2 separate regions of the Homo sapiens genome follow, and region 2 is linked to region 1. Evidence: fine-mapped expression QTL. A gene starts in region 1. The other region holds a variant in brackets. All regions are shown on one strand. Distances are from middle to middle. Region 1 holds the start of LINC01607 (long intergenic non-protein coding RNA 1607). Region 2 overlaps LINC01607 (long intergenic non-protein coding RNA 1607).

The links.
Region 2: its variant is fine-mapped to the expression of LINC01607 in caudate (GTEx, PIP above 0.99). The same link has a PIP of 0.9 or more in cerebral cortex, hypothalamus, nucleus accumbens, putamen, skeletal muscle and testis.

What each region holds. Positions count from the first base shown.
Region 1 is chr8:79,766,814-79,769,717 of GRCh38, forward strand. LINC01607 (long intergenic non-protein coding RNA 1607) reads left to right here and starts at 1,329. Exons shown (of 4, transcript NR_125410.1): 1 at 1,329-1,405. It overlaps HEY1 (hes related family bHLH transcription factor with YRPW motif 1), which reads right to left and starts at 954. Exons shown (of 5, transcript NM_012258.4): 1 at 762-954; 2 at 406-481; 3 at 196-279. The coding sequence starts at 850. It overlaps LOC101927040 (a long non-coding RNA gene), which reads right to left. Exons shown (of 6, transcript NR_110954.1): 6 at 2,559-2,904. RefSeq lists an enhancer at 477-526 and silencers at 977-1,456, 1,497-1,856, 1,957-2,126.
Region 2 is chr8:79,800,974-79,803,877 of GRCh38, forward strand. LINC01607 (long intergenic non-protein coding RNA 1607) reads left to right here. Exons shown (of 4, transcript NR_125410.1): 4 at 1,514-1,869. It overlaps LOC101927040 (a long non-coding RNA gene), which reads right to left. Exons shown (of 6, transcript NR_110954.1): 4 at 1,138-1,224. Among named protein-coding and RNA genes, the nearest start is that of LINC01607, 34 kb to the left of the region's middle. The variant C/A (reference allele first, on the strand shown) is at 1,505.

The DNA.
Region 1 (2,904 bases):
GATACATGCTTTGTAAATCGTAAAGCATGGACTAAAGCAAAATCAGTTGTCTTCACAAAATACGCTGGTATCTGTGTACGAATTCATCTAGGCACAAGCAACACAGCTATTTTCCAAGGCGGATGAGATTAATGAGGGGAAGATTCAGAAGGTGCAGATAGCTATGCTGAGAGCTTTACCTACTTGCTCCATTACCTGCTTCTCAAAAGCACTGGGTACCAGCCTTCTCAGCTCAGACAAACTGTTATTGATCCGGTCTCGTCGGCGCTTCTCAATTATCTGCAGAAGGCAAGCAAAACAAAGGAAGGCATTACCATTACGACTGTAAATTTCAAAGACAAAAAAAAAGGTGGTTATTTCCGTTAATCAATAACAAAAATAAAAGGAGAGTGTAAAGAGACTCACTCCTCTCCGTCTTTTTCTGGCCAAAATCTGGGAAGATGTAGTTGGGGACATGGAACCTAGAGCCGAACTCAAGTTTCTGAAAAGAGAAAAAGAACAAACAAAAACTGAAATCGCCGTTAAACGAGGAGAGGTGATCTGAGAGGTCGCCCCCACACCCTCCCCGCACTCAGACTTTTTTTGCCACTTGGGCTGGAAGGCACCTAGGGGTTCCCTGGCCGCAGGCTGCCGCCAGCCTGCGACGCGCGGAGGTCAGCGCAGGGCACCGGCGCGCCAAGGGTCCTAGCCCGCTGTCACCGCGGCAGGCCTGCGCTCGCCTCCCGCTCTGGCTCGGCTCCGCTCCGCCGCCGCCAGCTCACCCATTCTCGTCCGCACTCTCCTTCTCCACCTCGATGGTCTCGTCCAGCTCGCTGTCCGAGGAGCTGTACTCGGGGTGAGCTCGCTTCATGCTGGCTCCCTGGGGGTTCCTGGGGAGGGTCGGCGCGGCGGGCAGGGAGGAGTTAACTACAGCGGCGCCTCTCCGCTCTCGGCTGCTTGCGTTCCGCACACACTGATCCCGCTCACGCTTTGCCTCTGGTTAAAACTCAACCATCCTTTCCCACGCTGAGCCCCTTCCCAGGGCCCTGGGGAGGGCGGGGGAGTGGGGAAGGCGGGCGAGGGGGCGGAGAGGCGGGGCGGCAACTCCAGGGCAACAGCCGCCCCCCGGCCAATCCGGTTTCTCGCGCCGCTGATTGGCAGCCGCTCCGGGGAGGGGCGGGAGCGAGGCCGAGGGCTCTAGCGGACCGCGCCCCCGCCCTCCGCGCCCGCCCCTGCCCGGCGGCGGTGCGTCGGCTCCGCGGGGGCTCTGTCCAGCCTGCACTCAGGGGAAGGAGGAGGCGCGGGCGGCGGGGAGGCGCGGGAGGCCGGGCCGGGACACAAGCCCGCCGGCGGCCGCGGCTCCTCCCCGCCCCGCGCGCCCCGATTGGCCTGGCCGCGCGCCAGGGCCGAGCCTGCAGCGCCTCCGGTGAGCCGCACGCGCCGCGGGCCGTGGGAAAGTGCCGGCGCCGCGGCCGCCAGCCAATCCGGGCGGCCGGCGACGGCGACGGCGGCGGCCGCGCTGGCGGCGGCGGCGGCGGCGCTGGGCGTCCGCATGAATGGAGAAGAATGGGCAGGCGGGGAGCCGGGCCGCGCGAGGGCGCGCCGGCGGGGGCTGGGCGGCCGCCGGCCGGGCCCCCAGTGTGAACCTGTAATCGGAGCCTGGGCGCCGGCCGGCCTCGGAAGCCGCCGCCTAGCGCCACCGTAAATCTCGCCCGCGTGGCCGCCAGTGCCCGGCGGCTGGAGGCGCGCGCTGTTAGTGGGGCCGTGCCGGGTGCACCTGGCCGGGCTGCGCGCCGGCGGCTCCGCGGAACCCGCAGGGAGCCGGGAGAGGGGGCGCCGGGCGCGTCCACAGTGGCCACCAGCCCAGGGGCCGGTCACATGGAGGAGCAAGCTGTGGGCTCAGGGGACGCTCTTTTTGATTTCTGGGACCGAGGCCGCACATGCAGCCAGACTCGTTTCCGCAGGGGCTTCCCAGCCGCGGAATGGAATGAATACCCCTGTGCATCTCATTTCCGGGGAAGGGGAGCACTTGTTTTTTCGGCCGCCTTGGGGAAAAAAAAACCCAACGGTCCCTGGGAATAATCATTATGCTGGGATTTTTTTGTTGTTCCCCCGCTGCCCCCCCCCCCGCCCCCTCCCCCCGGCGGCCAGATCCTCTCAGCGGGCGACAGGGTGGCGGTGCTGGCGTTTGCGTCTGAGGCCGGCCTTGCTGAGGGAATGCACGTCTCTGGCCCCAGACACACACCTCTGGCTTCGGTGGCTTGGCGTGGCGTGTACTGGGTGCCACGTGAAGTCCCCCCCGAGTCCACTAAGAAGACAGATTTTTTAAAAAATACAGTTGTAAATCTCGAAACTGATTTCTGATTCCAGAAACAGAATGGTTGTTTTAAATTTGAAAATCCGGTCTTCTGTCCCTTACAAAGGTACACAGCAATTCGCATTCATCTCAGATCCACTCTGAAGCTTGTAGTCCTGTCTGTGAGGGAAAGCTTAATATCCATCGGTGAGAATAACAAAAGGCGTTTTCTCTTTGCAAAAAGCTTCCTGGTTTCTAGACTTCCTTATTGATCTCAATGCTATTTTTTTTTTGAGATGGTGTCTCACTCTGTCGCCCAGGCTGGAGTGCAGTGGCGCGATCTCGGCTCACTGCAACCTCCGCCTCCCGGGTTGAAGCAATTCTCCTGCCTCGGCCTCCCCAGAAGCTGGGATTACAGACGCGCGCCACCATGCTCAGCTAATTGTTTTTGGTATTTTTAGTAGAAACGAGGTTTCACCATGTTGGCCAGGCTTGTCTCAAACTCCTGACCAAAGGTGATCCGCCTGCCTTGGCCTCCCAAAGTACTGGGATTACAGGCCTAAGCCACCGCGCTCGGCCTCAATGCCATCTTAACACATCCTGGATGCCAAGCACTCTGAGTGGCCGGC
Region 2 (2,904 bases), 34 kb after region 1:
GACAAAGAGGGTTGGCCTTGGAAGGTCTGGTGTAGCTCACAGAAAGGCTGGTTATGACTTGCAGTCATTTAAGTGCAGATGGAGAATAGTTGATATCTTCCTCCTATGATTAATTCTCCCCAAACTTTTCTTTTGACTCTTGATGAAATATTCTCAATGAATTTTTCTTTTTATATCCAATTCTTAGTCCTTCCAGCAATTTTATCATCAAAATCTGTTAATTTTCTATCTCTCCTTGCTGTGGGCTGAATGTTGTGTCTTCCCAAAATTCATTTGTTAAAATCCTAAACCCCAAGTATAATGGTATGAGGAGGTGGGGTCTTTAAGAGGTGATCAGGTCATGAAGGTAGAGCCCTCACAAACTGATTTAGTGCCATTATAAAAAAGGCCCCCAAGAGACCCTCGCCTCTTCTCCCATGTGAGGATACAGAAAAGACAGTGTCGATGAACCAGGAAGGAGGGTCCTCACCAGGCACTGAATCTGCCAGCACTTTTATCTTGAACTTCCCAGCCTCAGAACAGGGAAAAATTAATTTCTATTGTTTATGAGTTATCCGGGTTATGGTATTTTGCTATAGCAGCCCAATAGACTAAGACTCTCCCTGTATAATGTAAGTTCTATGAAAGTAACGACTTTGTCTATTTTGTTCCTTGCTCTATCTTCAGCATCTAGTACAGTGCCTGGCAATAAATATTTGTTCAACAAATGTATGAGCCCATTTTCTATGGGCTTCATTAGGCTGAGATGGGGATGGGAACTAATGTTTAAAATGGGTTCCTATTACAAACAATGAAACAAACATCTCAAGCTCTCCTTCCTACTCACTTTTGTAGGAACTCCATCCCCTCCAGGTCTCTCCTGCTTGTTTCTGAGCATTCCTGGAGATGTTTTCGGTGTGCTCAGGAACAAGTGCTAAAGATGTGGCTACCGCACTGGAAACCTCAACAAGCTAAGGAGGTTCTGTGTTCTCCGAAGCCCTCTGTGCATCACAGCCATGGCTGTAAGCCATGAAGAAAGGGAAAGAGCACCTCCTTCTCGCCTTGTATAACCTCTTGTCACACAGGCACCAAAGCAGTATGACACTGTGCTTTGTAGTTGGAGGTTTTGTAATGAAAATACTTCCCATATTTACTTACATGTCTTATTTCCTCTGGATCCAGACATGAGTACAGGAAGAGCTCATCTGAGGACAAGGAGCAGTATTCAGACTCTCTCCTTCCTCCCTGCTGGACACCAAGACATTCAGATTAGCTGAACTTAGTAGGCCACCTCTTCCTTAGGCTGAGGCACTCCCGTGAGGCTATTCAGTGCCCTCTGCAAAGGAGTCTACTCTCTTAGCCCACTAACCATTACCAGGCTGTCTAGATTCCAACAGTGACCATGTTCAACCTTGAGCTTGAAAGCCACTACAAAATCCTTTCTTATAAATAGAGCTTTGGGTTGGCATAGAAATTTGGCATGTACCTGACCAAGCCTGTGTCTATGTCATTGGTATTTTATGTC[C/A]TATTCTAGGGCTTGTATGTGTCCAGGAAGTCTAGTGAATTCGACCATGAATCCAGACATGGCCAGTGGCTAAATCCTGTGGGAAGACACTGTGCTTCTCTCTGACCCATGAACACTCTGCTAGTCAAGCTCTCTGTCACAAAGACAACTTGAAGAGACAGAGTGGACCTCACAGAAGATACCATCGTCACTCTTACCAATGCAACTGTGGTGAACAGGACCACTATTATTCCTTAGATCAAAAGGACAGCACATTCAACAGCATCCTCATGGCATGCCAGCAATTTGCATAGGATGTTCACAATTAAACTTTGATTATCTAGTGCTTTGTGGATGTATTATGTATTACAGAAATCTATTTGCAACATGGAGGCACATTTTCTCTTTTGTTTGTTCACTTGTTTATCTGAAAATCAACAAATGGTTATAGAATGCCTACTATGTGCCAGGGACTTCTGGTCACAGCCTCAAACAAAAGAGATTCTTCTGTATTCTATTCTTCTGTAGCTTACCATAAATAAGAGCATTCCATAGGTAAGAAAACAGTTAAATAGTAAGATAATTTCACATAATCATAACTTTGGGCCTGATGTGGTGGCTCATGCTTGTAATCCCAGCACTTGGGAGACCAAAATGGGAGGACCACTTGAGCCCGGGAGTTCAAGACAAGCCCTAGCAACATAGTGAGACCCCCACAACAACAAAAATGAAAAAATTAGCTAAGAATGGTGGTGCACACCTGTAGTCCCAGCTACTCTGGAGGCTGAGGCGGGCGGATTGATTGAGCCTGGGAGGTGAAGGTTATGAGCCCAGGAGGTGAAGGTGAAGGTTATTGCTTGAGCCCAGGAGGTGAAGCTAAGATGGTGCCAATGCACTCCAGCCTGGGCAACAGAGCAAGATCCTGTCTCAAAAAAAAAAATTAAAAGCTAAATTTTATGAAAAAATTATAAAAAACAAATTTGATGAAAAAAATTACGCAGAACAATCTAACACAAAAGGTGGCTGGGATTTGCTGGCCTGTGTCATTCACATCCCCCTTGTCCCTTGCAGTTTCTAGAGTACATGCCAGAAAGGTGAAATGCTTGTTTCCCCAACCTCCCTTACTGCTAAGAGAGTAGCAGCCTGACACAAATCCATGGCTCCAAACAAAATACCCTGAGGAGCACTTTCCTGCCCAATAAAATGCAGAGCCAGAGCCACATAAGAAAAGACTTTGATCCTTTAAACTCTCCCTTCTCCTTGTTTGAAACAAAGATATAATACCCAGAGGCACAGCAGCTATCTTGCAATCATGGAGTGATCATCATATGGAAGAATGTCATGATGTTAATGACTACCGCAGAGTAGGAAGCAAGAAGGAGGCTGCATCCCTGCTGTCACTATTGAGCCCTGCAGAGCCT